4 linked regions of the Homo sapiens genome follow. The protein of the gene in region 2 purifies or fractionates together with the protein of the main gene of each other region. This does not show direct contact. Each region holds a gene or a part of one and is shown on either strand. Other genes may lie near its edges.

Region 1 (7,832 bases), on a different chromosome or scaffold from region 2:
GATTACAGGTGTGAGTGACCATGCCCAGCCATGTATAGCAAACTTCCTACTTTTTTTGTTTTGTTTTGTTTTGTTTTTGAGACGGAGTCTTGCTCTGTCCCCCAGGCTGGAGTGCAGTGGCACGATCTGGGCTCACTGCAAGCTCCGCCTCCCGGGTTCACACCATTCTCCCACCTCAGCCTCCCGAGTAGCTGAGACTACAGACGCCCACCACCATGCCCGGCTAATTTTGTTTTTGTATTTTTAGTAGAGACGGGGTTTCACCATGTTAGCCAGGATGTTCTCGATCTCCTGACCTTGTGATCCGCCCACCTTGGCCTCCCAAAGTGCTGGGATTACAGGCATGAGCCAACTTCCCACGTGTCTGTTTGCATAGTTGAGTGATACTGTTTCATCCTCCTGCTTGGATGCTAGTTTGGCTGAGTATGAGGATCAATTTTTTTTTTTTTTTTTTGAGACAGAATCTCTCTCTGTCACCCAGGCGGGAGTACAGTGGCAAGATCTTGGCCCACTGCAACCTCTGCCTCCTGGGTTCAAGCAATTCTCATACCTCACCTCCCAAGTAGCTGGGACTACAGGTGCCTGCCATCACACCTGACTAATTTTTATATCTTTTTTTTTTTTTTTCAGAGATGGAGTCTTGATGTTGTTGCCTGGGCTGGAGTGCAATGGCACGATCTTGGCTCACTGCAACCTCCACCTCCCGGGTTGTAGAAATTCTCCTGCCTCAGCCTCCCGAGTAGCTAAGATAACAGGTGCCTACCACCACGCTCAGCTAATTTTTGTATTTTTAACAGAGATGGGGTTTCACCATGATGGCCAGGCTGGTCTTGAACGCCTGACCTCAGGTGATCCACCCGCCTCAGCCTCCCAAAGTGCTGGGATTACAGATGTGAGCCACTGCACCTGGCCAACCCTGTCTCTACTAAAAATACAAAAATCAGCCAGGTGTGGTGGCGGGTGCCTGTAATCCCAGCTACTCATGAGGCTGAGGCAAGAGAATCGCTTGTACCCTGGAGGTGGAGGTTGCAGTGAACCAATATCACACCATTGCATTCCAGCCTGGGCCACAGAGCAAGACTCCGCCTCAAAAAAAAAAAGTATATATATATAATGTGTTCTGATTCTTTTTTTCTTTTTGAGACAGAGTCTCACTCTGTCAGCGATCCCTGCTCACTGCAATTTCTGCCTCCTGGGTTCAAGCAATTCTCCTGCCTCAGTCTCCCTTGTAGCCAAGATTACAGGCACCCACGACCACACCAGATAATTTTTTTTGTATTTTTAGTAGAGATGGGGTTTCACCATGTTGGTCAGGCTGGTCTTGAACTCCCGACCTCAAATGATCTGCCTCTCTCGACCTCACAAATTTCTGGGATTATAGGCATGAGCCATGGTGCCTGGCCCTGATGATGATGATGATGATTATTGAGACAGAGTCTTGCTCTGTGGCCAGGCTGGAGTGCAGTGGTGCCATCTCAGCTCACTGCCACCTCCCACTCCCTGGTTCAAGTGATTCTGTTGCCTCAGCCTCCCTAGTATTGGGATTACAGGCACATGCCACCATGCCCAGCTAATTTTTGTATTTTTAGTAGAGATGGGGTTTCATTATGTTGGCCAGGATGGTCTTGATCTCCCGACCTCACGATCCACTCACCTTGGCCTCCCAAAGTGCTGGGATTACAGGTGTGAGCCACTGCGCCTGGCCCCTCATTCGAATGAGAATGCTTGATTGCCTATTTTTTCCTGTGTGAAGGCATTTATGAATCCCTTTCTAAAAATTTGCTCCAATGCATATAGTTGTTTTTTTGTGGTTTTTTTTTTTTTGAGACGGAGTTTTGCTCTGTCACCCAGGGTGGAGTGCAATGGCGTGGTCTCGGCTCACTGCAACTTCTGCCTCCTGGGTTCAAACGATTCTCCTGCCTCAGCCTCCTGAGCAGTTGGGATTATAGGTACATGCCAGCACGCCTAGCTAATTTTTGTATTTTTAGTAGAGAGAGCATTTCACCATGGTGGCCAGGCTGGTCTCGAACTTTGACCTCATGATCCGCCTGCCTGGGCTTCCCAAAATGTTGGGATTACAGGTGTGAGCCACTGTGCCCGGCCCATAATTCTTTTTTTTTCTTTTCTTTTTTTTTTTTTTTTGAGACGGAGTCTCACTCTGTTGCCCAGGCTGGAGTGCAGTGGCGCGATCTCGGCTCCCTACAAGCTCCACCTCCTGGGTTCTTGCCATTCTCCTGCCTCAGCCTCCTGAATAGCTGGGACTACAGGCTACTGCCACCACGCCCGGCTAAGTTTTTGTATTTTTAGTAGAGATGGGGTTTCACCGTGTTAGCCAGGATAGTCTCGATCTCCTGACCTCATGATCCGCCCACCTCGGCCTCCCAAAGTGCTGGGATTACAGGCGTGAACCACTGCGCCCAGCCCCGGCCCCATAATCTTAAATCTTCTTTGACACCCTTTATATCCTTTTTATATCCTTTTTATTTATTTATTTATTTTAATTTATTTTATTTTTTTTTGAGAAAGAGTCTCACTCTGTTGCCAGGCTGGAGTGCAGTGGCGTGATCTTGGCTAACTGCAAAATCCACCTCCCGGGTTCACGCGATTCTCCTGCCTTAGCCTCCTGAGTAGGTGGGACTGCAAGCACTGTGCCATCACACCTGGCTAATTTTTTGTGTTTTTAGTAGAGAAGGGGTTTCACTGTGTTACCCAGGATGGTCTCGATCTCCTGACCTCATGATCTGTATGCCTCGGTCTCCCAAAGTGCTGGGATTACAGGCGTGAACCACTGTGCCTAGCTGCTTTATATCCTATTAATTGACAACTTAAAATTTTTTTTTCTTTAGACTATATCCAGAATCTGGCCACCTCTTTTTTTTTTTTTTTTTTTTTTTTGAGACGGAGTCTTGCTCAGTCACCCAGGCTGGAGTGCAGTGGCACGATCTCAGCTCACTGCAACCTCCGCCTCCCAGGTTCACGCCATTCTCCTGCCTCAGCCTCCCGAGTAGCTGGAACTACAGATGCCCGCCACGATGCCCGCCATGATGCCCGGCTAATTTTTTTGTTTGTATTTTTAGTAGAGACGGGGTTTCACCATGTTAGCCAGGATGGTCTCGATTTCCTGACCTTGAGATCCACCCGCCTCGGCCTCCCAAAGTGCTGGGATTACAGGCGTGAGCCACCACGCCCGGCCGAATCTGACCACTTCTTACTACCTCCTCTGTTATGCCCTGGCGCAAGTCAACATCTCTGGCCATGGCTTTTAGCCTCCTTAAGGCTCCTTGTTTCTTCTTGCCCCCTGGAGTCTATTTTCACCCAGCAATCAAAGGGGGATCCTGATAACGATGTCAGACTATGTCGCTCCCCACTCAGTACCCTGCAATGACTTCTACGTCCTTCAGAGGAGAGACAGTGGCAAGATCTCGGTTCACTGCAAGCTCCGCCTCCTGGGCTCAAGCGATTCTCCTGCCTTAGACTCTCGAGTAGCTGGGATCACAGGCATAGGCGTCTGCCATTACGGCTGGCAAGTTTTTGTATTTTTAGTAGAGACGGGGTTTGACCATGTTGGCCAGGCTGGTCTTGAACTCCTGACCTCAGGTGATCCACCTGCCTTGGCCTTCCAAAGTGCTGGGATTATAGGCATGAGCCACTGCGTCGGGCCTTTAACTTTTTTTTTTTTTTTTTTTTTTTTTTTTTGTAGAGACAGTGTTTCGCTCTTTTTGCCCAGGCTGGAGTGCAATGGCACGATCTGGGCTCACCGCAATCTCTGCCTCCCAAGTTCAAGTGATTCTCCTGCTTCAGCCTCCCAAGTAGCTGGGATTACAGGCATGCGCCACCATGCCCCGCTAATTTTGTATTTTTAGTAGAGACGGGGTTTCTCCATGTTGGTCAGGCTGGTCTCAAACTCCTGACCTCAGTTGATATGCCTGCCTTGGCCTCCCAAAGTGCTGGGATTACAGGTGTGAGCCACTGGGCCCGGCCTAACTTTTTTTTTTTAGAGACAAGAGTCTCGCTATATAAGTCAGGCTGGTCTCAAACTCCTGGGTTTAAGCAATCCTCTCGCCTTGGCCTCCCAAAGAGCTGGGATTACAGACATGAGCCATAACACCAGGCCCAAACCTGTCTTCTAGTGCCTCCAAAACCTCTGTCGCCTCATCAGCTACTACCCTCCCTCTTCCTGTGGTTTCTCAAACATGTCAGGCACAGACCATCTCAAGGCTTTTGCATTTTCTTTTTCTTCTGGGTGGAAGGTTCCTCACCCTTGACCCTGTTATGTGTGAACAGAACTCCCTCTCTCATCTTCTCAGGTCTTGAATCCTGTCACCTTTTCAGTTAAACCCTCCCTTATTCAACGAACTAAAATTGCAAATCACTTGTCCCACACACCCTCTAACTCTCTTCCTGGATTTTTCTCCGTAGTACTTATTACTACTTGATACACTATGCATTTTTTAGTTATTTATCTTTGTTATGGTCTGTAAATTCCAGGAGGACAGGGACCTGTGTGTTGTACTACCAGGGGTGCCTCCAGCACCTAGAAGGACGCCTGGCATATGGCAGGGCGCAATTGATCTCTCTGGAGTGAGTGGATGAATGGGAGCTCAGAGGAAACATGGAAGTCTGGGAAGGCTTCCTGGAGGAATAGGCCCGCTGGCCCACACTCCCAAACCCCGCCCATGCGGCTTTGCGCTCTGCCACGCCCATCGAAGCGGGGCCGAGGCCGGAAGCAGCCCCGGGCGGAAGCCCTACCGTGCCAACTGGGCCCTCCTCCCGACCTGCCCCGGGCTCGTGCCCCGCCCACCCAAAAGTGGGTGAAAGGTCGGCGGCGCCGGCACTGCAGCTGGGGCTGAGAAGCCAGGACGGCCCGAGAACTGACAGACGGAGTGACAGACGGACTGACCATGGCCGACCAGCCAAAACCCATCAGCCCGCTCAAGAACCTGCTGGCCGGCGGCTTTGGCGGCGTGTGCCTGGTGTTCGTCGGTCACCCTCTGGACACGGTCAAGGTGCGGGAGGCTGGGTCGCAGGCTTTGGGGAGGAGGCCCGGGCGGGGCGCGGAAAGCATGGTCCCCCGCGAGGCGCGGACGCTGGGCAGAAGAGGGGCATGTGTGAGCTTCCGTGAGAAGTCTAGGGAATCTCTCTTTCAGGGGTGGGCAGGAAGCTGTACCTTGCGCCCCAAAGAGCCAGGCGGCGGCGCAAAGTGAGCAGCCTCTAACTGCCTGTCAAGAGCTCTGATGTAAAGTTCCCTGTCCCGCAGTCTCTTCTGACCCTGCGCCACTTCTTTAGGGATGGGAAGGAATAAACGTCTCTCCATAGTTTTGGTTTCAGCCAACACTAATATTATCGTTAAGGTTGAAACAGGTCCCCTGTAAAGCCTGCCCCAGGAAGACAACTAAAGACAGAGCGGTACGGTTGTTCTGGAGGTGTCCTTTGATACATTCCCCTGGGGCAAGAGTACCCATCTCTTTCGCACCTTTCCCGGCCCGGGGAGATACTTGACACTCTTCGGCCTGTCACCCAACGGTGGCCTGCTCAGCCTCCTGGGCAGAGGCATCCCTGTGAGAAGCAATGATGACCTCAGTGACCGAGCCCCTTCCACGGAAAGCAAGGTGATCAGCTTTGCACAAGGCCAGCCTCATTCTCACAACTCCCAGATGAGGAAGCTATGGTCAGACTGAGGCTTGGGAGGGAGGACGTTCATCAGGAATTGTTCTCTGGTCTTCCTCATATCATATCTCAACTATTCCCCTTGCAACACCTTCATTAATGCTTTGCTTGGGGACCAAAGTCCATCCCCCATGGCTTAGCACTCGAAGCTGCATCCAGTTTTCTCACTTTTTTTCTAGACGTAGACGTGAAGGAAATTGACAAGTCATTGCCAGGGTGGGCCTGTGGGGAGCAGACATGAGTTTTAAAAGATTGGAAGCCCATGTGAGGGGGTTTGTTAGGATGTTGGGTCAGATTTCTTCCACAGCGAAATAGTTTTGTGGGCACTTCCTCTTGGCCAGCTTGGGCAGCAAGCTCTTTGCTGCCTTTCATCCAAGAGAGGAGCTGCCCTGAAGTAGAGCTCATACTGGGGTCATTCTATAGGAAGACCAGGGTTAAAGTAGCTGGACTGGCTAGGTCATTGTGCAACATGAAATCAAATGTTTATTTAGCTGGTGGTAAATGCCATGTGTTAGTGCTTCCCAGACTGTGGTCATTCCAAGCGGCACTGTCTACTGAGGGACGATTGTCTGGCCTTTCTTCCTGCTCTTGGTCCATATAGGCAGATATCTTATTAGTTCTAGGCCTCTGGGGCCGCCCTTAAAAAAAAAAAAAAAAAAAATATATATATATATATATATATTCACACACACACAAATATTGCTCCTACCTCCATATCACCTTTGTCCTTGATGTCACTCCCAAGAAGGACTGGATGACCTCTGCACTGAAGTGCAAATAACTGAAATGCTCACTGGCATATTTAGCAACCAGAAAGCCTCTTTTTAGCTTAAACCAAAACCACAAATTGCTGACTGCTGTGTTTTTGGCCTTAGTGAGCTGGGTGGGCTCCAATCAAAGCCTGACCTTAAGGTACTTTCAGAGTTCCAAGGTTAAAAAAAAAAAAAAAAAAGGAGAAGAAGAAAAAAAAGAAGTCCAAGATAGTGTAACTGAGCTGTGGGCTGTGTGTCCTGACAAGGCAAAAGCTGCAGCGCTTCAGAGTGGGTCATGAAAAGGCTCTATGGAAGGTGGTGCGTTAGAACAGGCATTCAAGTGCTGGGTGAGTTCAGACTGAAGGAGTAGGGAGACCCAGACAGTCTGATGGGAAGGCAGGAGTGAAGGTGAGTGTGGCTTGCAAGTGGGGATCATATTATAAAATAAGACAACCTAGGCCGGTCACGGTGGGCTCATGCCTGTTAATCCCAGCACTTTGGGAGGCTGAGGCAGGTGGATCACCTGAGGTCAGGAGTTCGAGACCAGCCTGGCCAACATGGTGAAATCCCATCTCTACTAAAAATACAAAAAAAAAAAATTGGCTGCATGTGGTGGCAGGTGCCTGTAATCCCAGCTAATTGGGAGGCTGAGGCAGGAGAATCGCTTGAACCCACAGGGCGGAGGTTGCAGTGAGCTGAGATTGTGCCATTGCACTCCAGCCTGGGTGACAGAGTGAGACTCCTTCCCAAAAACAAAACAAAACAAAACAAAACAAAACAAAACAAAACAAAAACCACCTGCAAAGGACTTTAATGTTCTTGCTGGTTTGGATGGCTGATATCCTGTTGAGACAGGTATGAGGTATGAAGTGTATATAAAATCACAAAAAGGCAGCCTTGGCAACATGGCAAGACCTCATGTCTATAAAAAATACAAAAATTAGCTGGGCATGGTGGTGCACATCTGTAATCCCAGCTACTCAGGCGGCTGAGGCTGGAGGATCGGTTGAACCTAGGAGTTTGAGGCTGCAGTGAGCCTTTGCACTCCATTCTGGGCAACAGAATGAGACACTGTCTCAAAAGAAAAAAAAAATCACAACAAGGTATTAGTCAGAATTTTTTTTTTTTTTTTTTTTGAGACAAGACTCTCCCTCTGTCACCCAGGCTGGAGTACAGTGGCAGGATCTTGGCTCATGGCAACTTCCATCTCCCGAGTTCAAGCAATTCTTTTGCCTCAGCCTCCTGAGTAGCTGGGATTATAGGTGCCCACCACCATGCCTGGCTAATTTTTGTATTTTTAGTAGAGATGGGGTTTCTCCATGTTGGGCAGGCTGGTCTCAAACTCGTGGCCTCAAGTGATCCTCCGGCCTTGGCCTCCTGAAGTGCTGGGATTATAGGTGTGAGCCACTGTAC
Region 2 (7,866 bases):
TTGCTTGACGTCACACTCTCATACCAGGGTCTCACACCTCCATTTCCTCTCCCTGGGCCTCAGTTCCCCCATCTGTAAAACAGGGGTCTTGATAAAGGGGTCACAGGGATTCAGAAAAAGATACCACATCTGGGAGATCAAAACAGTGGCTTCTGGCTGGGCGCGGTGGCTCACGCCTGTAATCCTAACACTTTGGGAGGCCAAGGCAGGTGGATCACTTGAGGTCAGGAGTTCAAGACCAGCCTGGCCAACACTGTGAAACCCCAACTCTACTAAAAATACAAAAATTAGCCGGCTGTGCTGGTGGGTGCCTGTAATCCCAGCTACTCAGGAGGCTGAGGCAGGAGAATCGCTTGAACCCAGGAGGCGGAGGTTGCAGTGAGCCAAGATCATGCCATTGCACTCCAGCCTGGACAACAAGAGCGAGACTCCGTCTCAAAAAAAAAAAAAAACAAAAAACAGAAAACAAAACAAAACAAAAAGCACAGTGGCTTCTTCCAGTGCCAAATCTGCTGCTACCCAACTGTGTCATCTGAGAAAGACCCCACATAACCATCCCTCCCCAGCTTTCAGTTCCCAAGGGTAATAGGACAGACTGATAATGGCCCAGCACTCACTCAGTGCCGGGCACAGATTTCAAGAATGAACACCTCAAAACACTCCCACAGAAGAGGGAGGAGCAATTATTACCCCCACTTTATAGTTGAGGCAGCTGAGGCACAGAGAGGCTAAGTGACTTGCCTGAGGGTGCACAGTATTATGGGACAGAGGCAGAACTCAAACCCGGGCCACCTGGCTCCAGCGGCTACATCTGAATCACGTGCCGTGTTAACCGGTCTTGCAAGCCTCAGCCTGATTTTATGATTCGCACACCTGCTCCATGGGTATGACCTCATCCAACCCCTGTGAGGTCCCTCCCATTTCCACCCCACCGCAACGGAAGACCCCTTCGCAGATGAGCACCTGACACCCAGAGAGCTGATGCTTCTCACAAGGGGCACCAGGACCCCGAGAACCATTCTCTTGATTCCACTTCTGCAGCCTGGGTGACCTTCACCAGTGACCCCCGCACTCCCGTCTGCTCATGTGTTAAATGAATGAATCGTCATAATTTACTATATGCTCTGAGCTCCTAACACAAACTAAGTCGTTACTCCTCGAAAAACTCTACGAGGGGATCCTCTGATTTTAAGGATAAGAAACTGAGACACAGAGAAGAAAAAACTCTTACCAGGGTCTCCCAAAATAGTAAGTAGTGGAACAGAGATCTGCACCCATGCTGTCTGGATCCAGACCCAGCGCCCTGAAACAGCAGCTTGTCTGGTTCCAGAAGGAACGGAGGCCGTGGTGAGACTAAGTTAGAAGAGGGCCAGCACCTCATGGGGAGGCCCTTCGGGCACCACGAGTCCAGTCCCGCTCCGGAGGTGGGCAGTCTGCAGGCCCCCTGAGAAGGGGGTTTGAGGGGAGGCTTTTTCCTGCTGGGGAATCTCAAAGGGCTTAAAACTGCAGACCGAGAAGCCGGGACCTTGCCCAGGGGTGATGGGGAGCTGCAAGGGAAGGCTGTGAGCAGGGGAGGGGCGGGGTGATCTCCAAGTGCAGAGAGACCCTCTAGGGCCACGTGGTGACCGACAGGAGGCTGTCCTCCCGGACAGGAGGAGCGAGGGTCCAGAGAGAGAGGAGGACGTCTGAGCTGGAGCCAGGCCAAGGGGACAGAGAGGAGGGGACGGGGCAGAGAGAGGCAGGGGCCGAAGGGACAAGGCTGGGGACCGATGGGCTGTAGGGGATAAGGGGAGAGATGGGGCAAGGTCAGTGCCAAGGGCGTCTGGCCGAATAACTGGGTGGTCGGTGACGCTGCCCCTGAGATGAAGAACGTGGAAGAACAGGGAAGGAGGGTTTGGGGAAATAGAGCAATGAGTTGGGACTCGGTAAGTGAGAGGGGCCTAGGGACAGTGGTGCAGGGGGCGCCCAGGAGCAGGTGGCTGCCCAAGCCGGAGTTCAGGGTCAGATGGAGGAGACCTGCGTGGTTGGTGGATGAACCACGGGAGTTGATGAAAAACTCCCAGGGAACGTTCTCAGGAGGAGGAGCCGGGCAAAAGTGAGACTCAGGCCGCGGTGGGCGGGACCCAGGCCGCGGTGGAGGTGAAGGACGTCCGCGGACACGTCCAGGAGGACATCGATCGCGCGAGCCTGAGCCAGACACAGTGGGCGGGGACGGGGCGCCGACGTCACCGCGTGGGGGCGGGGCTGCGGGAGCCGCTGGCTGCGCGCCCTCCAGGGAGCCGAGCGCAGACCGGGTGCGCGCCTGGGTTCGGCGCGGCGGGAGCGCCCTCAGTGTCCCCGTCTGTATCAGGGGTGCTTCATCAGTACCTGCCTAGGCTGGTTAGGAGGAGGAGCACGTGCGATCGTGACGGGAAGCGCTCAGCACAGACCTGGCACCGAGGAAGTCCCAGGGGCTCGGCTCCTTTCCCTCGTCACCACCGCGCCCCAACAGAGGGAGGCGGCTGCAGGGGTGGCGGCGAAAGGGCCCACCGGGCGTTCCGGAGTCGGAACACTGATTCCTCTCCCGCGTGGCCTCTCGCTTCTGCAGGAACCTTGCTTGTGCTGCCTCCTGTCTGGGCCTCAGTTTCCTCCGTATTCAGCAGGAAGCCATAAGGTTATTAATATAAACACCTCACAGGGCTGCCGGGAGCCGGAGTGAGATCCTACAAAGAGAGCACTTGGCACGGAGGAGTGGCCTGCAGCCGCATTCCATAAACAGGGCTGCTCAGCTGAAGCGGTGGCCCAGGGTGAGGCCCGCAGACTTTGAGCATCAATTTGTGGGGAGGGAGGCAAAGGGACATAGGAGTTCTAGAATAGCTTCCAACCTGGGGATCTATTATGTCTGCCGGTCTGGGCTTGTAGAATGTCTGGAGACCCGACGTTCTAGAATGCATGAGGTTTCTGGGGACTCCAGAGTGCCCGATGTTCGAAGGTTCTAGAGTGTTTGGAGCTCTGTGGTTCTAGGCTATTCTAAAATCTTACCTTCCAGAGTGTCCTCCACTGCCAGAATGTCTTAGGGCCTGTGCTTTTAGAATCTGAAAGTCTGATATTCTAGAAATTCCAGGGGCCTGTAGTTCTAGAATGGCTGAATCCTTCCCATAAAGATGATGACTTTCCACACATGGGGAGAGACCACGCTTACAACAGGTCCCATCCTTCACTGGGTGACCTGAGTGAGGTCAGTCCCTCCTGTCTTGGGACCTCCTCATTAATTAAGCCAAAATAGACTCTAGATAATTGCTTGGGGCCCTCTGGGGTTCTGAGACATTGGAAGCCAGCCTCAAATACCCAAAGCCTTGGGTCATCTCAGTGATCATCTCCAGCCTCTGGGATGCAGAATCCAGATTTCAAGCTCTAGAACCCAGAAATAAGACTACAGGACCAGAATAGAGACCCTGGGTTCCCAGACTCTAAATTCAGACTCTAGAGTCAAGATTCTAGCAATCTCAGAATCGTGAAAGCCAGGTCCCTGTCTCTCAATTCAGCCTTTTAAAAATTTATTTACTTATTTATTTATTTATTTAGATTTTTCATAGAGATGAGGTATTGCTGTGTTGCCCAGGCTGGTCTCAAACCCTTCAGTTCCAGCAATCCTCCTACCTCAGCCTCCCAAAGGCATGAGTCACTGGGCCCAGCCACAGTCCAGGTTTTCAATGCAAAAACAGATTTGAAACTCCAGACTGTATGTTCCAAAGTCTACTCCTGAAAGCTCAGAGGCTAGATCCACCCTGTAGAATCCAGACCCCAAGCCTGGCATGGTGTCTCACGCCTGTAATCCCAGCACTTTAGGAGGCTGAGTCAGGTGGATCACTTGAGATGAGGAGTTCGACACCAGCCTGGCCAACATGGTGAAACCCTGTCTCTACTAAAAATATAAAAATTAGCTGGGCGTGGTGGTGGTCGCCTGTAATCCCAGCTACTCAGGAGGCTGAGGCAGGAGAATCTATTGAGCCCAGGAAGTGGAGGTTGCAGTGATCTGAGATCACGCTATTGCACTCCAGCCTGGGTGACAAGAGCGAAACTTCATCTCAGAAAAAAAAAAAAAAAGAATCCAGACCCCACAATTCAAAATCCCAAATCTACCATTTGTAGTCTAGGCCCCAGGCTTCTCATAGCAGGTGCAAAGGTTTCCAGCCTCGATTGCCAGATTCCAAACACCAGATTCCAGGCTCCTATTGTGGGTTCTAGATTCGAATGCCCCGGGATCCAGAATCAAGGTTCACGATCTGTCACTCAAAGGCCCGACTCCAGGATCCAGATTCCAGACCCCCAGCCCAAGAACTCAGACTTTGAAATCCATATTCCAGACTGCAGGTCATTAATCTCCAACTCAAGATCCTCAAATCCAGAATCCAAGACCCAGATCCAGAACCAGATCCGGATCCAGAACCCGGGATCCAGAACTCTGCCCCAAGCCCAAGAACAGGGACTTTAGGATCCAGTTTCCACACTCCAGACCCCAAATTCCAGACTCTGTCTTTTGATCTCCTCCTAATTTCTGTTTTTGTCCTCCTGTCCCCTCCCCCTTGAGGAACTGCTCCTGGTGGAGAATTCCTCTTTGTGGACTCAGACAACAGCTTCAACCTAATAAATGCTCATTAGGCCAAGTCTCCCACCCCACCAGCAACCAAGGCGTCTCTGCCTGTAAACCTGACTCTCAGCCACCTCCCACCCCACCCTACACCACCACACCCCCAGACCCAGCTGGGACTGGGAGCTTATAAATTCAGGCATCCTGGTACCTGCTCCCTTCTGGCACCCAAGCTGCCCTAGATGCTGCTGGAGGATCTGGAGGAGGTGAGAGCTTTGAGACAAGACTGAGGGAGGGGCAAAGGGGAGATTCACTGTGCCCTGGTTTCAAGGGGAAACGTTGACCACGCTTGGAGAACTGAGTGTCAAGGGCATGGGTAGATCCACGTGTCCTTTACCAATGCCCCAAATTGAACCTGAACCAAGAAAATGTCCTGGAATGGCCAGAAGGAGCTGCAGTGGTGGGGAGGGAGGGGGATGGAGTGGATCAGGAGGACGTCCCTGAAGTACTTGTATCAGAGCCAAGAACGTGGTCAGGAGTGATCACGGGTTCAAGTCAGTTCAGCACAACCTCCCGGAGGCCTCCTGTGTACCAGGCCCCAGGTGGGGCAGTGCTGAGGTCACAGAAAGAACCTGACCTGAGCCCCATCTTCAAGACCCCCAGATGGAGAAAAGAACAGGCCAGACCTCAGCAAGTATGGGGCATCTGCGCTGTAATGGAGACAGAATGGGTGCTGTGGGATTCAGGGGAGACACCTGTTAGGTGTTGGGGCCTCCCAGAAGAGGTGGGGGCAGAGTGTCAGAGGACAAAGATGAATTTGGAAGATATGGGGAAGAAGGATTTCAATTCACCCTCAAAGCTTCCTGAGGCCTCCCGTGGGTCGGGCCCTGCAGTACTGGAGACCCAGAGTGGAGTCAGACCAGCTCCTCGGGGAGCTGCCAGTCTCGTAGGGGAGGCAGACACCACTGAGGGTCAGGGGAGGTCAGAGAAGGCCTCAAGGAGGAAGCGGGGCTGGAAGGGAATGGCGTTGGATATGCGGTGGGAGGAATAGCCTAAGCATGAAATGGCAGGAGGGAAAATGGCAGCACTGGCTGCGTCTAGGACAAGGTCATGGGAGACCCAGGGAGAGGGGCTGGAAGGGAAGAAGCCACTTTTGTCCTTGAAAGTGAGGCTGGAGCCAGGCAACTCATGCCTGTAATCCCAGCACTTTGGGAGGCTGAGGCGGGTGGATCACTAGAGGTCAGGAGTTCAAGACCAGCCTGGCCAACATGGTGAAACTCCGTCTCTACTAAAATTACAAAAATTAGCTGGGCGTGGTGGCACACACCTGTAATCCCAATTGCTTGGGAGGCTGAGGCAGGAGAATCTCTTGAACCCAGAAGGCAGAGGTTACAGTGAGCGGAGATCACGCCACTCCACTCCAACCTGGGCTACAGAGCCAGACTCCGTCTCAAAAAAAAAAAAAAAAAAGAAAAAAAAAGAAAGAAAGTGAATTTGAAGAGCTGGACTTTATCCTGGTGGTGCCAAGGATCCATGGAGGGTGGTGAGCAGGGGAGGGGCACAGCCAGCTCCAGATGTAGAAAGACCCTTTGGGGTCATGGCTGGAGGGCAAGCTGGTGGAGGGGACTGGACTGGAGGGGGACCCAAAAGGCCAGATAAGAGGGTTGAGATAGACCAGGCGCGGTGGCTCATGCCTGTAATCCCAGCACTTTGGGAGGCCGAGGTGGGTGGATCATGAAGTCAAGAGATTGAGGCCATCCTGGCTAACACGGTGAAACCCTGTCTCTACTTAAAAAAAAAAAATTTCCAAAAAATTAGCCGGGCACGGTGGTGGGCGCCTGTAGTCCCAGCTACTCGGGAGGCTGAGGCGGGAGAATGGTGTGAACCTGGGAGGTGGAGCTTGCAGTGAGCCGACATTGTGCCACTGCACTCCAGCCTGGGTGACAGAGTGAGACTCCGTCTCAAAAAAAAAAAAAAGTTGGGACAGGGGTCCTTGGTGATGATGGAGAGAGATCCAGGGGCTGGTAGCATGGTGCTGGAGGCTGACAGGTGGAGGAGGTGGGGCAGGGTCTGTCCGAGTGCCTAGAGGAAGAGTAAACCTTCCAGAGATGGGGGACCCAGAAGGAAGCGCAGAGTGGGGTTGGGGGAAGGGGATACCGGTGGTCAGAAGAAATTTATTAACAGTGGATGGGATAAGTCTGTGTCTGGAGGGATCCTGGTGGAGGCAGAAGGGTCCTGCCTCACCTGGATTCTCTCACTCCCTCCCCAGACTGCAGCCGAACCCTGGTCCCTCCTCCACAATGTGGCTTCTCCTCACTCTCTCCTTCCTGCTGGCATCCACAGGTGAGGTGGCCCCAGGAGGGGGCCAGGTCTGTGGGAGCAGGTGCCCCCTTCCCAAGCATGTCTGGGCCCAGTGATCTGCCAGCCCCTACCTCACCCAGAGACCACTAAAGATCCTTCCTTCACCCTCCACCTGTGCCAATGTCCCTAAGCCCTTACCGTCAGGTGCTGGTGCTGCTGCTCTGGAGTCGCTATGTTGCCTGGGGCCTCTCGCTGCCCACGACAAGGAACACGGTCCTGGGGTTACACAAACCTGAGCTGAGTCCTGGGGCAACCGCTTCCTTGCTGTGTGTCCTTGAGGGAACTGCTTCACCTCTCTGGGCTTCGAATGCCTTCTCTATAAGACAGCACCCACTTGAGACAATAACAGTGAGGTCTCAATAGCATAACAGAGGTAATATACATAGCAAGCATTAGACAAGTGCTGAGAGGCCAACAGCACAGACAGACTCCAGCTTGAGTCCCACACCTGCCACTCCCTGTCTCTTACAGGGTCTTTGAGGGGATTAAATGTGGTTGTGTGTGAGGCAGAAGCATAAGCCTGGCCCAGGTAGTGCCCCTTCAGGTGTGCAAGCCAGGCACGGTGCTTAGAGCTTACATACAACGTCTATGTGTGGTGGGCACCACCGACCTCATTTGACAAGGGAAGGGGCTGTGGCTCAGAGGGACGGCCACAACATCAAGGTCACCTTGGGTGTCAGGCAAACTCCAGATTGAACTCAGCTGCCACACACCAAGAAATTAATTGTAACCTGATGCCTCTCTTCTGGAGAAATTGGGGGGTGGACTTTCATTAACGTTCTGCCACAAATGACCCTCACTCCTGGGGGCCCCTGAGACCCCCACGCCTCCAGCCTCCCCTCCGGCTCTCTCTGTGCACTCACCTACCTGCCTCGCGCCTGCCTGCTGCGCCCAGCTGGGGCCTCCACCTTCCTCTGGCTTGGACTGGCCAGGTG
Region 3 (7,772 bases), on a different chromosome or scaffold from region 2:
TCATCACAGGACCAGCACCACGACTTTTTTTTTTTTTTTTTTTTTGAGACAGTCTCGCTCTTTCGCCCAGGCCGTAGTGCAGTGGCGTTATCTGGGCTCACTGCAAGCTCCACCTCCTGGGTTCAGGCCATTCTCCTGCCTCAGCCTCCTGAGTAGCTGAGACCACAGGCACCCGCCACTGCACCCAGCTAATTTTTTTTGTATTTTTAGCAGAGACGGGGTTTCACCGTGTTAGCCAGGATTGTCTCGATCTCCTGACCTCGTGATCCGCCCGCCTCGGCCTCCCAAAGTGCTGGGATTACAGGCGTGAGCCACCGCGCCCGGCCTCGCCACGACTTTTAAAGGCATTGTTCCCAACTTCTAAGCCTTGTTCTCTGGCCCTTCTGGAGTTTCATCAGCTATCACATACCATTGTAATAAATTTCCTTTCTGCATATGGTAAGCCCAAATTGACTTTTGCTGTTTGCTACTAAGAACCCTGTGTACCTGCTGCATCTGGAACCATCCCCAGACACCACACTTTTTGTAATGTAACTGCTTACTCCTCTGTTGCCACACTAGACTCTAAGTATTATTATGATTGGATCCTCAGTGCCCTGTAATCACCCAAGAAGACACTGATTGAATGAATGAATTAAACTTTCTGAGCTCTCATTTCCTCATGTATAAATTGGGAATAACAGTTACTTGGTTTTTTGGGTTTTTTCAGGCAGTTTCCCTCTGTCGCCCAGGCTGGAGTGCAGTGGCATGCTCTTGGCTCACTGGAATCTCCGCCTTCCCGGGTTCAAGCAATTCTCCTGTCTCGGCCTCCTGAGTAGCTGGGATTACAAGCACCCACCACCATGCCCAGCTAATTTTCTTGTATTTTTAGGAGAGATGCGGTTTCACGATGTTGGTCAAGCTGGTCTCGAACTCCTGACCTCAAGTGACTCAACTGCATCGGCCTCCCAAAGTGCTGGGATTACAGGCGTGAGCCACTATGCCCAGCCAAAATAGTAGTTCTAAAGAAAGATGGAGAATGTTTTTCTAACAGGAAATAAACTTGGACAACCTCCATCTCAATCATCTCATTTTACAGACAAGGAACTGAGGCCCCCAAAGAGTAAATGATTTGCCTAAGTTTGGTGGATAAGTTCAGAGCTGTTTTTTACTCCTAGGTCAGTACATTTTCTACACACCATGATGGCCATAAAATATTATAGGCATCAATGTTTGTATCCCCCGCCTCCACCTTCACATGTTGGAGCCCTAGCCCCTCAAGGTGATGGTATTAGGAGGCACGGCTTTTGGGATGTAGTTAGGTTTAGGCGAGATAATGAGGACAGGGTCCCTATGATGGAATTGGTGCCTCTAAAAGAGGAGGAAGAGACATCAGAGCTTCCTGAGAAGCCATCTGCAAGGCAAAAGAGGGCCCTCACCAAAACCCAACCACATCGGTACCCTGATCTCAAACTTCCAGCCTCTAGAACAGTGAGAAATACATGTATGTTTAAGTCACCTAGGCTATGGTATTTTGTTATAATGCCCAAGCTCAGACAAACATTTTATTCGATAATACTTTCACTTTAAACTTAAACTGGGCCAGGCACAGTGGCTCATGCCTGTAATCCCCGTGTGTCCAGAATTAGTGGGTTCTTGGTCTCACTGACTTCAAGAATGAAGCCGCGGACCATCGCAGTGAGTGTTACAGTTCTTAAAAGAGGGGCGTCCAGAGTTGGTTCCTTCTGATCTTCGGATGTGTTTGGAGTTTCTTCCTTCTGGTGGGTTCGTGGTCTCCCTGGCTCAGGAGGGAAGCTGCAAACCTTCGCAGTGAGTGTTATAGCTCATAAAGACAGCGTGGACCCAAAGAATGAGCAGCAGCAAGATTTACTGCAAAGAGCAAAAGGACAAAGCTTCCACAACGTGGAAGGCGACCCCAGTAGGTTGCCTCTGCTGGCTCGGGCAGCCTGCTTTTATTCCCTTATCGGCCCCACCCACATCCTGCTGATTGGCCCATTTTACAGAGAGCTGCCTGGTCTGTTTTACAGAGAGCTGACTGGTCCGTTTTGACAGGGTGGTGATTGGTACATTTACAATCGCTGAGCTAGACACAAAATTTCTCCAAGTCCCCACAGAGCACTGATTGGTGCATTTACAAACCTTGAGCTAGACACAGGGTGCTGATTAGTGTGTTTACAAACCTTGAGCTAGACACAGAGTGCTGACTGGTGTATTTACAATCCCTTAGCTAGACATAAAGATTCTCCAAGTCCCCACCAGATTAGCTAGATACAGAGTGCTGATTGGTGCATTTACAAACCTTGAGCTAGACACTGAGTGCTGATTGGTGTATTTACAATCCCTTAGCTAGACATAAAGGTTCTCCAAGTCCCCACTAGACTCAGGAGCCCAGCTGGCTTCACCTAGTGGATCCCACAGGGGAGCCGCAGCTGCCCACCAGTACTGCCCCGTCAGCCCCACACTCCTCAGCCCTTGGGCGGTGGATGGAACCCGGCTTGGCAGAGCAGGGGGCAGCGCTCGTGGGGGAGGCTTGCCCCGCAGGAGCCCACAGTGGGGCGGGGGGTGCGGCTCAGGCATGGCGGGCTGCAGGTCCTGAGCCCTGCCCCGTGGGGAGGCAGCTGAGGCCCAGCAAGAATTCCAGTGCAGCGCTGGCGGGCTGGCACTGCTGGTGGACCCGGGGCACCCTCCACAGCTGCTGGTCTGGGTGCTAAGCCCCTCACTGGCCAGGGCCGGCGGTGCCAGCCGGCGCTCAGAGTGCAGGGCCCGCCGAGCCCACACCCACCCGGAACTCCCGCTGGCCCGTGATCGCGGGGCACAGCAGCCCCGGTTCCCGCCCACGCCTCTCTCTCCACACCTCCCTGCAAGCAGAGGGAGCTGGCTCCGGCCTCAGCCAGCCCAGAGAGGGGCTCCCACAGTGCAGCAGCGGGCTGAAGGGCTCCTCAAACGCGGCCAGAGTGGATGCCCTGGCCTGAGGAGGTGCTGAGAGCGAGCGAGGGCTGCTAGCACGTTGTCACCTCTCACCAGCACTTTGGGAGGCCGAGGCGAGTGGATCAGGAGTTCCAGACCAGCCTGGTCAACATGGTGAAACCCTGTCTCTACTGAAAATACAAGATTAGCTGGGTGTGGTTGTGCATGCCTGTAATCCCAGGTACTCGGGAGGCTGAGGCAGGAGAATCACGTGAACCCGGGAGGTGGAGGTTGCAGTGACCCGAGATCTCGCCATTGCACTCCAGCCTGGGCAACAAGAGCAAAACTCTGTCTCAAAAAACAAAACAAAACAAAACAGAACAAACTTAAACTGAAATACGCATGCATTTATTGGTAGGTAGTGCAGAAGGCTGGTGCAGGGGTTATGAAGAATGCTATGAAGTTTCAAGTATGGCAACCAGCATATGCATTCACGTTTGCTATGTGTGCTCAGGTGTGAGAGCCAGAGCGTGAAAATTACTTCTGCTCACGGGGAGTCCAGTATATACACTATCTTGTCCTCTCGGGAACTCTATAAAGTAGAAATTGTTACGCTACAGATTATTAAAACAAGAAAAAAACAGGCTCAGTAAAGGTAATTGAATTATTTTGGGTGCTGCAGCCAACCACCAAGTTGCAATGACCAAATCGGAGCCAAATAAATTGCTCACTTCTGGTCCGTCTCATGTCCCCATCTAAATTACATCATTAATTTACAATCCTTTGGCATTTTTCATAATCTAGACAGCACTTTCCCTTCTTTCGTCTGTTTAAGTCTTGCCATTCTTCCTACCTCTCTGAGGAAGGAGTTCATAAGAGTAGGAATAGGCTATTAAATTCTAACCATTTCAGATAACCATAAGTATCCTGATTTATCATATTGCCATAAATAAGCCTAGGAGACCCTACTTCATAAATGGTTTCTTGTCTGTACATTAGGTAATCGGTGTGAATTTCCATAAGTCTCTAAATTCAAAGCATTAATGAACCACAAATAGGCTTTTAACAATTGAATCCCGGTTGCTATTCTTGACCTTTTCATTTATTTTCAGAGACCACTTCTCATTTAAGTGACACTTAGCAACTAAAAAGATTCACAGAGTGATTCAGAGTCGAGTATGATGTCCTCACTGTTGAATGCTCATAGAATATTTTTTCTCTTTCCATAGTCTTGAGGACCAACGCAAACGTCTAGAGGATGTGGGATTCTTACCTGCTAACATATCTTTGGCATTAACTCCCCAAATCTTTGAATGCAAGGCACGCTTACCTGACACCCTAAACTGCTAGTTTAGGGACACCCGCCGCAGAGCGGAATCGTTCAAGGTCACTGGGGCTGCAGGTGCGGGGCCTTAACCAGCGCTGCCGATCCGTCAGCTCTCGGCCCACCCTTGGGGATCCCCATCGCCCACTGCGACCTAGCTGGGAGAACCCAGTCCGCCCGCCCTCCCGGTGGCCGGTCTTGGAACCGCGCTTCTGGAAGGTTCCTGAGTGGCTGGCAGTGGGGGCGGCTCCAGGAAGCCGGGGCGGAGCGGGCGGCGTTGGAGTCTCGGGCTACGCCTCCCTGGGCCGCTCCGCCCCGCCCGTTGTCGGAAGCCGCGCTCCGCCAGGCAGGAGACACTGTGGTCGGGAGTAGGCAGCGGCGCCGCGTCCGCTCTCGCCCGCTCTCGCCCGCTCGCCAGCCGGCTCTCCTCCCGCCGCAGGACCCGCGCGCCGCGCTCGGGGGCCATGCAGCGCCTGGCCATGGACCTGCGGATGTTGTCCCGGGAGCTCTCCCTCTACCTGGAACACCAAGTCCGGGTGGGGTTCTTCGGCTCGGGGGTGGGCTTATCCCTTATCCTGGGCTTCAGCGTCGCTTATGCCTTCTACTACCTGAGCAGCATTGCCAAGGTGAGCCGGGGGTGGCGCAGGGCCGCGGGCTGCTGGGCCAGGAGCTAGGGTAGCAGGCGCGGCGCGAGGCTGCGCGGCCAGGGGCGGTCGGCAGCCCCGGGGATAGGCGGCGAGCTGCTCCCGAGCGGCAGCCCCCAGCGCGCGCGGGAAAGCCAACAGGCCCCGCCCGTTCGCCCGCCCCCTGGGGGTCCCGGCCGGGTGGTCCTCGGAGCGCAGCCTGAACCCGGCTGACTTCTGCGCTGCGGCGCTGCCCGGTCACCGATCGCGAAGCCGGCGGCGCACTCGGGAACGCCGTGGCGCTTTTGAAAATGACTCCGGGCAGGGCACGGTGGCTCACGCCTGTAATCTCAGCACTTTGGGAGCCCGAGGCGGGTGGATCACCTGAGGTCAAGAGTTCGAGACCAGCCTGACCAAAATGGTGAAACCCCGTTACAATTACAAAAAATTAGCCGGGCGTGGTGGCGGACGCCTGCAATCCCAGCTACTCGGGAGGCTGAGGCAGGAGAATCCCCTGAACCCGGGAGGCGGAGTTAAAAACAAACAAACTCCCTTATCGCGATTCTCGCCTTCCCCTCGGGGCATTGGCGAAACCCCCGTTTCAGTCCTCTGTGACTGTGAATTTTTTGCGTCAGCCCTCCAGAAAGAGTTGTAATCGGAGGAAGCGCGCGCGCGAGCGACAAGTCTTTGCCGGTTTCTGGTTTACGGTTGGCAGAAACTTTGCTCTGGGCCCTTCTCTGATACTGCTTTTCCCTTCAGAAACCCCAGTTAGTGACCGGGGGTGAGAGTTTCAGCCGCTTCCTTCAAGACCACTGTCCCGTGGTTACAGAAACGTACTACCCGACGGTCTGGTGCTGGGAGGGTCGAGGACAGACCCTGCTTAGACCTTTCATCACTTCGAAGCCCCCGGTGCAGTACAGGAAGTAAGTGAATTTCCGTTTTCAGTCATTTCTGCAAAATCACAGGTTGTTTGTTTGCTTGCTTGCTTATTCCCAGTTCTTGGTTAATAGAATCTGCTTTAGGAAGTATATAGAACAGAAAGAGGGAATGAAAATGGAAGGTACGTCCCCGGCTCCACCCCCAGCTGCAGGAAAATACCCCAGCTGCAGGTATTTGCCTCCTGGTCCCCGCCCTAACCGCCAACCTGATGTAAATGGTTTATTTTTAGGATGAGAGAAGTGTTTGGGGATTACTGTCTCGCAGTTTGTCATACATCTGTCAGAAAGACCCAGATCTTTTGATGATCTGCATTCATTCATTGATAAGTAGCAGATACTGGGGGGGGGGGTGGGGTGAGAAGGATGCCACTTAATTTGGGTTTTGGGCGATTTATTGGTGTAAAATGACTTCCTATTGACAGGCAAATGGGATCTTGATGATAATAGCTCTTGATGTGTTAAAGATACGGTCCAGGATTTATCAGGAACCAGATTTAAATGGTGCCTGTTATTAATTTCCCTTAGTCATCTATCCTTCTGGAGTTTATTTTGTTGCCTGGAACTTGCACTGTTTGTTTGGGAAAATTCTGTAAGTTCATGAATACTATGTGAGAAATAATTTAAATTATTTCAGAAGAAAATCTTGAAGTATACTATACAAGGAGACTGCATTATTGAGTCCAAAGAGCTAGAGCAGTGGTCAGAGATTAGATCAGCATTTTACTTACTCAGACTTCCCTGTCGCATTAGTTGAGTGACCTCAATCAAACAAGGGTTAAATGCTGGATGTTTTGGAGTAATGAGTAAGTATTCATTTATCTTAATAATTAGCAGTTCATTTTTATATACGACCTTGTACGGAGGTTGCTGGAAATACTTGATGGTACTAATCTTCATAAAATCCTTCTAATGAAAGAAAATGATATGTAGATCGAGATATGGGTGTGTGTTCGTGAATGCTGGAAAAATGTTATTTTTTGATGAGCAAATAATGTCATGTGTTTAGAATTAAAATTAAGACATGACTTAAAACATGTAAATAGTAATGTCTTCTGAATTATTCCTTTCAGTGAACTTATTAAAACTGCAGATGGAGGACAGATTTCACTGGACTGGTTTGATAATGATAACAGTACGTGTTATATGGATGCCAGCACCAGACCTACTATCTTATTGTTGCCTGGCCTCACGGGAACAAGCAAGGAGTCATATATCCTTCATATGATCCATCTTAGTGAAGAATTAGGATACAGGTACCAGTAAAAGATTTCTTTTTTTTCACTTGATCCATTCCAAATGAAGTACAAATATATCTACATGTTTGTTTCAGAAATACTTAGTACTTCTTGCATAGAAAAGCAGTCCCTTAAATTATTATTTTTCTCTGCATTCTTTTTTTCCTCTTTCTTTTCAGGAAGATGCATAACTGAATCATCTCACAAGAAATGTCACTTAGCATAGTAGACACTCTGCAGATTTAGGCTGAGTTAATGAATGAAATTAGAATCATCTGAGCATTGACTGAGCCCTTCCCCCCATCCCCACCCCAATGGAGAGTGTGTTATGGAGGGAGAACAGCAATTACAGACCCCTGAGAGAGTACACAGTGGCCGTCATGCCACATTCTGGGGCCTGGATTCACTAATCTTGTCGCCCTGGCTCAGCTCCCAAGTGCAAAAAATATTCAGAATCAGCTTGTAGGTTGTCCCTATTTATCAAAGGTGATCTCTGCCTCTTCTGACCACCTGAGTTTGCAGGTGCACTTGGCTAGTCTCCAGTTGTTGATGCCACAGCTTTTCTGAGTAACCATTATTAAGCTCAGTCACCAGGTACAATTTAATTTTTTGCAAGTGATTAGCAACTTTGAGTTTCAAGTTCAGCTCTAGAATCTTAGAGTCATTATAAAAGGTACTGCTTTTTTGTGCCTCAGCTTTTTTTTTTAGCTGATAATTATTGTAATGGAACACTCTGTGAGTTGTA
Region 4 (7,199 bases), on a different chromosome or scaffold from region 2:
AGAGACAGATTCTTGCTTTGCTGTCCAGGCTGGTCTTGAACTCCTGACCTCAAGTGATCCTTCCGCCTTGACCTCCCAAAGTGTTGGGATTACAGGCATGAGCTACCATGCCTGGCCTTGTTTACCCAATTTTATGTTAGTGAATTTCTTGCCCATTACAAATGTACAAGTAAAGATGGAGTAAATAATTTCCATGCCCAGTGAGAAAGGGTGCGCAGAATTTATATTTAGTTATGGAGGTGATTTTTATCTTAGGAAAAAGGTGGCATGATTCAGATCCTTCTGAGTTGAGCCCTTAGGGTGTCTTATTTTGTATTTTGAATTCTGTACATGCTAGAAAGAGTGGTGATAGAATCAAAATATTTCTAATTCTATAACCTTAGTCCAGTCGCTTGATTATTTCTGCCTTCACATCCTCATCTGAAAAAAATTGAGCTTTATATCTATGTATACTGTGTTGCTACTAGTTTATCACAAGGATAAAGTGAGACAAATTTATCAGATAACCTAGGGAAATAAGTTACGTTATAAATGTAGAATATTCTGTTGGTTATATTGTGTGTCATGTTGTCTGTCCTTCTCTCCTTTCCCTTTTCCCTCTCCCTCCCTCTCTCCCCTCTACTTCTCTTTTTGTACCTGACTTGCCCATTTAGCTACAAGCTCATGAAGGAAACATATTTTCTTACTTGTCTTTGTATCTTTCTTGTTTACTGGGTGTCTGATATACTAGCACATACTTGGATGAATATAATAATATTTGAATGACGATATTTGTAAGTAAATATTTGAATAACTGTGAAGTAAATATTCTTCACAGTGTGAAGAACTGTGTGCGGGGCAAGAAATAAGCCCTTGGCAAGCAAAGTGAGAGGAGAAAAGCCTTTCTATGAAGGAGACTGAAAAGGAGTGATTGGAGAGATGACAGAGAACTAGAACAGCTCAGTAATCAACCATAAGATCAGATGTTTTAAGTGCAGCAAAGAGGTCCAATAAGATGATGTCTGAAAAATATCCGTTGTATTTGGCTATTAGGTAACCAATTGTCTGATAGTAGTTTCAGTAGAGTGGTAATGGATGGTTGGGTGAGAGGAGGGAGAGGGGTTGTGTGGAAGCCAGATGATAATGGATTAAGGAGTAAATAGAAATTGAGAAAGCAGATATGAAAAGTGTGGACTCCTTTGAAGGCATTTGGTTGAGAAGAAGGAGAGACATTAAAAGGTTGCTATAAAGTCAAGAGGAGAGTGTTTTAGCTCTGTTTTGTTTTTTGTTCTTGTTTTTTTCTGTGGGAGACGTGGTGTGTAGGCCATAGGAAAGAAGCATGAAAAGTTGACAGTAGATGAAAGAATGGAGAGGTGGGAGACAGACAGGAACCAGAAAAGAATGTAGCAATAGGCACACATAGGCAGAAGAGTTAGCTCTGACTAGGAAGAAGAGCCCCTCATACTTTAAGAACAGAGAAGAGAGGAGGTAGGAATGGGTGATACAGTAAAGGTGTACACTACGGTGAGATTCGTTGTATATGCAAAGACATGTGAATTGGCATACAGCTTAAGAAAATAAATTGCAAGAAATACCTAAAGTCTGACAAATACCTTGGCTTACATTTAAGTCAAATTTGTAACCAATATTTAATAATTTTTGGGTTTCTGAGAGTAGTAGCTTTCTTTGCTTGCTTAATGTGTCTGAAAATCGTGTCTGAAAATCCTATCCAGTTAAATAATCTTTTTTTAAAATGCTGCTGTATGCACATCCTAGATTGCTGTAATACTTGAGAATTCAAAAGGTATGATTTATAATGAATGATACTAGTTATCCTGTGAAAGATTAACGTATAATATATATATATATATATATTTTTTTTTTTGGAGACAGTCTTGCTCTCTCACCCAGGCTGGAGTGCAGTGGCGTGATCTCGGCTCACTGCAACCTCCGCCTCCTGGGTTCAAGCGATTCTTGTGCCTCAGCCTCCCTTGTAGCTGAGACTACAGGTGCTCACCACCACTCCCGGCTGATTTTTTTTTTGTATTTTTAGTAGAGACGGGGTTTCATCATGTTGGCCAGGCTGGTCTCAAACTCCTGAGCTCAAGTGATCCGCCCGCCTTGGCCTCCTAAAGTGCTGGGATTATAGGCGTGAGCCCCTGTGCCAGGCCCGAAAGATTACCATATAATTTTCATGCAGTTTTTGTTCAGATTTCAGCAGTATGTGGTACTAGGTACACATCTTACAGTTTATAAACTTTACTTTTAGAGCACTTGTGACTTACTACTAAATTTTGTTTGTTTTTCTTTTAGTTATTACAAGAACTGTGTACAGTATTTAATGTAGATTTACCATGCCGTGTGAAGTCTTCCCAATTGGGAATTATCAGCAATAAACAGACGCATACCAGCGCCATAGTGAAGCCACAGTCTAGCTCCTGTTCCTATATCTGCCAGCACTGCCTCGTCCACCTTGGAGACATTGGTGAGCCTTTGCTGTGAAGGAATTGATAATATGTTCCTCCTTTTCTTTGGAATAGTCATAGAAAGAAACTGTTTTCCTTTAAGCGGAGCATACACACACAATTTAGATTGTCATAAGAAGAAACTATAAAATGTATTCTAAGGAACTTAAAATTTCTCAATATTTTTGGGATTGGCAGAGCATCGTGAAGAAAGTAACTTTCATATTAAGATTTAAATTTTATTCCAACTTTATGTAATTTATATAGGCAAATAATAAACAGCAAAAACATAATCAAAGCTTAATTTTTCAAAGTGGTGCCATAATTTCTAAATTAAATGTACTCTTCTGGAATAAATGAGGTTTATAAATTACTCCTGAAGCGAAATTGCCTTCTTTCTTTCTTACCAATGGACTAAAAGTTGATTTTTAATTTTGCTTCCTTTTTAAAGTTTAATTTGTATTTCTATTATTTGCATTTTATCTGGGAATATTATATAACTTATTTATTCTTGTTCATTCCTTTAAGGTGACCTAGAAAGGTTGTAAAACAAATTAACTATAGGATTATGTTTTGCTTGTCCTCAAATAACAAAGAATGGAGAACATTACTGCTTTTAAGTTTGAAATTTTAGATTTCTTAATATTGTAAGTCAGCGGTTCCATGAGGAGGTCACATCAGAGTAAGCAGTGAGTTTGGCAGGGAGATTCATTGATACTGTGTTTAGGTTGTTTTGCTTTAAATATAATCTTTGCACACACATATTTAATATTGCAATAGGAATGAGACATTTTTCAAAATCACTTTATAAAATATTGAAAAATACATAATTTTCAGATCATATTGTATAGTGTATTTTGTTTTGTTTTGTTTTTAAGTGCCATATAACTCACCCCTTCTTGTGGGCCGGCTCCAGGTCACCAGCATAGTCCATAGTGGGAGCTGGTGATGCATGACACTGGAGGACCTGAAAATGGGGTCTAGGTAAGCTTTAAAATTGGTTACATGCTGAATGTCCCAAATAAGGAAGGCTGATGGACACTTCACACATAATCCTATAGTTAATTTGTTTTAAAGTATTTTGTCTTTAATTTTAAATTAACTTTAATGTCTTTATTATCTTTAGAACTTAAAACTATAGCTGTTTTGGAAATACTACCCTACTGTTTGTTTTTTGGGTTTTTTAAAACTAATTTTCTTCTTCTTAGCTCGATACAGAAACCAGACCAGCCAGGCAGAGTCCTACTATAGGCATGCAGCTCAGCTTGTCCCCTCCAATGGTGAGTGGACCTGTCAACCTGAGATTGACCGTGACACTTTGTTCTTTATAACAATGTGGCAGATAACTCAGGGCTCACCTTTGAAGTTTTATGAAAGCAATAAATGAGTTTTGTTATTGTCATGTTTTTCCATTTAACTGTACATTCCATGTAAACTAAAATGAATTTTTTTTACAAGTAAGATGACTTTTATTATTTATTTTATTTTATTATTTATTATTGTCAGTAAAGCAATATAGATAGAATCTCTTAATGTAATCTGATATTGTTTCTACAACTCTGGCTTCCTTAATTGCTTATAGAATAATTATTTCTTTAGATACCACCATTCCCCTCCCCCCAGAAAAACAATCTATTACCTAAAAGATAATCTTTTAATGGCCCCAAACTAGGCATTAGCAGTAGTTCTTGAGTTACAGAAATTACAGCAGATATTTAATTATTTAAATCATTCTTACTAAGACGTTGAAATTCCTTTAGATTCTAGAAAGAGTCTAAAGCAGGGATGATAGTCTGACCACACTACTTGTTTCATATTTGTTTATGGCTGCTTTCACACTACAGTGGCAGAGTTGAGTGGTTGTGATAGAGACCCTTTGGCCTACAAAACTGAAATTATTTATAATCTAGCCCTTGCTGAAGCCGCTCTCTACCCTAATATTGACTGTTTAACCTGTATATGATAGTGTGTACTGTCGCTGAAGTGTGCTGTTGGACCTTACGCTGGTTTGCAATGAGGCAGTCATATTTACCTTATAAAAATACTCCCCATTGTTTGAGTATTTAAACACTGATCATTTGTATTCTTATAGCAAGACTTTGTCACTCTTGGGGTTACTCCAGAATCTTAACTTTCTCCTGTAGGTCAGCCTTATAATCAGTTGGCTATCTTAGCTTCTTCCAAAGGAGACCATCTGACCACAATTTTCTACTACTGCAGAAGCATTGCTGTGAAGTTCCCTTTCCCAGCTGCCTCCACTAATCTGCAAAAAGCACTTTCTAAAGCACTGGAAAGGTAGGGTTGTTTGGTTTTTTTTTTCTCTTTCCAAGAGGACTTTGTAACCTGGAGCCTTAATTCCTCATAATTTGGTTTACAGAAAATAACGGCCTATGCTTCTCTTATTTCTAAACATATAGATTTTTCATAATTTGTGTATAGTCACTGAATTTCATCCAATCAATATCTGATTCAGTCCCAGTAAAAGAGTACACAGGCTGTTAATACTGACTCATCTTGAGTGTGTTGCAGTTGAAAAATCAGTCAAATACAGCTCTTTTGTGTATCAAGTATTTAGCAAGCCAGTGCCTCCTTAAACAGTTGTAGCCAATTTGCTGCTTATGATTCATGGAATTTTTTTCTTTCATTTCAGCCGAGATGAGGTGAAAACCAAGTGGGGTGTTTCTGACTTCATCAAGGCCTTTATTAAATTCCACGGTCATGTGTACCTGAGTAAGAGCTTGGAAAAGTTGAGCCCTCTTCGAGAGAAATTGGAAGAACAGTTTAAGGTTAGATTTCAGAAATAGAGAATTTTTGTCTTGTCTAAATCAGGAAGCATAACATTTGGAGGAAACTGACTCCCAGTTTTTGTAGTTACTTAACTGTGTGAACTATTGGTAAAAATTATATTCGAAGTATGTGAAATCTTTGCATTTATCATCCCTTCAATTTAAACTGAGGTACAGTCTGTATAAACAAATATAATATAGCAGTGTTTTCACTTGAGTAGTTGCCATTTGACAAAAATTATCAAAGTGGAAAAAAATAAATAACTCCTCAGTTTTGAAACTACTACTACTTTTGATGGTTTGTGTATTCTTAGATATGATTATGTTACCTGCTTTATAGATATTGGCATTCTCCAAACCAAGTTCATTATTTTTATTGTGCTTGCATTCATCAGGATTGTGGTAGTTTGAATGAAAGGAATGAGAGTTTCATTTAACAGGGATATATTTTACTAATTTGAAGAGATAACATTAACCTTCATTCTATTTATATATGTGAAAATGATCTTTTATTAGTATGTTAAGATATTAGCAGTTTAAATGTATAATGCATAAAATAAGGAGAAAGTCAAAAGTATTAACTTTTTTTCAGTTCATGTATTCAAATAAATATTTGACTACTCATCGGTCATTGTTTTAGGCACTGTGTTAAACAGTAAATGACAATTTCAAAGAACATTTTATATTTCTTGGTTATTTCTAGGTATCTATATACTTGGGTAATTGTGTATAACTGCTTCATAGTATTTCTGTAAGTTCTTTATAAGTCAGGCATTTTAAGAGATTGTAGAACTTGGACAGTTAAGGTGTCACTTAGCCAAAAATAGTCAATGCGAAATAGTTTTTACAGGTAATCGCTTTTTGGTTGATACTTTCTATGTGCAAGATATTAGAATAGATAATTATAAATAGCAATAGTTTGTTTTGTTTTAAAATATACTTAGCCTGTGACATATGATGTATAAGGTTGGGTGTGTGAAAGGAACAGCTAACTTTGTCATGTCCTAGGCTGTTCAGCCTGGAAAAGAACAAACAAGTCTAAATAGTTTTCATAGTAAGTATTCAGACATGTGAAGGATTATTTGAAAAGAACATACCTGTATCTTTCCTGAAGTCAAAACTAAAATCTTAAATTTTAAGTTGAAATCTATAGGGGGCTGACCGTGGGATGTTGTGGATTCTCCATTTTGGAGAGCTTAACAGTCAGATTGACAGCCATCTTTCTTGGATTATTTAAGTGCAGTCCTACTAAATAGGGGATTGGACTAGAAAACTTCTTGAGATTGCTTCCAGCTCTGGTTCTGTGAAATACTCTCTAAATTGGTGGTGGTGGGTGGTCCCTACCTTAATGAGATCTTCACTAACTAAGTTATTCTAGTCTAAAAACCTAGTAAGTTTTGCATTTGGTTCAACCTCAAACACTAACACTCTCTTCACATATATATTTCTGTATGTGAAGTTCTGGTAAGTGTGGGTGGGCAGTTTCTAAAATATACTTTGAAGTATCATTCCAGCACTCTAAAGTTAAACATAAAACATAGTATGAGGCAGATCTATTTGAAAGCTTACCCAGTGTTGAACTAGAACATTGCTGGAGTGAAATTTTAACATAGTGGAGTAAAATTTCCAAAGTATTTCTAAAGCATATGTAGATAATTAGTATCATCAACATGTATACTTCAGTGTTTCTAACAACCTTTAGCTACTAAGCAGAAATGTTTACCAAGTTGAGGTCCACTAAGGGATTTAAGGCCTGGGATCTGGGAATTGAGATGTAATACATTTTCTGTAAGTTAAATGTGGGCTGTTTGTTAATGGTATTTATTTCAGTATATTTCTCAACTGTAGTTGAAAGTTTGAGTAGCAAAAATCTTATCAGTTCTAATCTGACTTTATTCCTTGGAAGACTCTCTACAATATAATCTAAATTTTAGGAAATTACAACTGAATAACTTCAACCTTATTTCTG

What was found.
Region 1: the proteins of KLK15 (region 2) and SLC25A20 purify together in Homo sapiens (affinity purification with mass spectrometry; 2 studies listed by BioGRID and IntAct, with this or other methods). This does not show direct contact.
Region 3: the proteins of KLK15 (region 2) and ABHD3 purify together in Homo sapiens (affinity purification with mass spectrometry; 2 studies listed by BioGRID and IntAct, with this or other methods). This does not show direct contact.
Region 4: the proteins of KLK15 (region 2) and SMG7 purify together in Homo sapiens (affinity purification with mass spectrometry; 3 studies listed by BioGRID and IntAct, with this or other methods). This does not show direct contact.

Annotation. Positions count from the first base shown.
Region 1 is NC_000003.12:48,895,864-48,903,695, reverse strand, and holds the start of SLC25A20 (mitochondrial carnitine/acylcarnitine carrier protein), read left to right. Parts: upstream 1-4,813; 5' UTR 4,814-4,901; coding exon 4,902-5,006; intron 5,007-7,832. UniProt on the Homo sapiens protein: Mediates the electroneutral exchange of acylcarnitines (O-acyl-(R)-carnitine or L-acylcarnitine) of different acyl chain lengths (ranging from O-acetyl-(R)-carnitine to long-chain O-acyl-(R)-carnitines) with free carnitine ((R)-carnitine or L-carnitine) across the mitochondrial inner membrane, via a ping-pong mechanism.
Region 2 is NC_000019.10:50,830,497-50,838,362, reverse strand, and holds the start of KLK15 (kallikrein-15 isoform 4 preproprotein), read left to right. Parts: upstream 1-4,788; 5' UTR 4,789-4,836; intron 4,837-6,839; 5' UTR 6,840-6,870; coding exon 6,871-6,913; intron 6,914-7,069; exon of another isoform or gene 7,070-7,264; intron 7,265-7,798; exon of another isoform or gene 7,799-7,833; intron 7,834-7,866. UniProt on the Homo sapiens protein: Protease whose physiological substrate is not yet known.
Region 3 is NC_000018.10:21,701,589-21,709,360, reverse strand, and holds the start of ABHD3 (phospholipase ABHD3), read left to right. Parts: upstream 1-4,586; 5' UTR 4,587-4,695; coding exon 4,696-4,857; intron 4,858-5,613; coding exon 5,614-5,777; intron 5,778-6,862; coding exon 6,863-7,045; intron 7,046-7,772. UniProt on the Homo sapiens protein: Phospholipase that may play a role in phospholipids remodeling. May selectively cleave myristate (C14)-containing phosphatidylcholines through its predominant phospholipase 1 activity, cleaving preferentially acyl groups in sn1 position.
Region 4 is NC_000001.11:183,524,304-183,531,502, forward strand, and holds part of SMG7 (nonsense-mediated mRNA decay factor SMG7), read left to right. Parts: intron 1-2,292; coding exon 2,293-2,464; intron 2,465-3,409; exon of another isoform or gene 3,410-3,428; intron 3,429-3,652; coding exon 3,653-3,724; intron 3,725-4,588; coding exon 4,589-4,739; intron 4,740-5,094; coding exon 5,095-5,230; intron 5,231-7,199. UniProt on the Homo sapiens protein: Plays a role in nonsense-mediated mRNA decay. Recruits UPF1 to cytoplasmic mRNA decay bodies.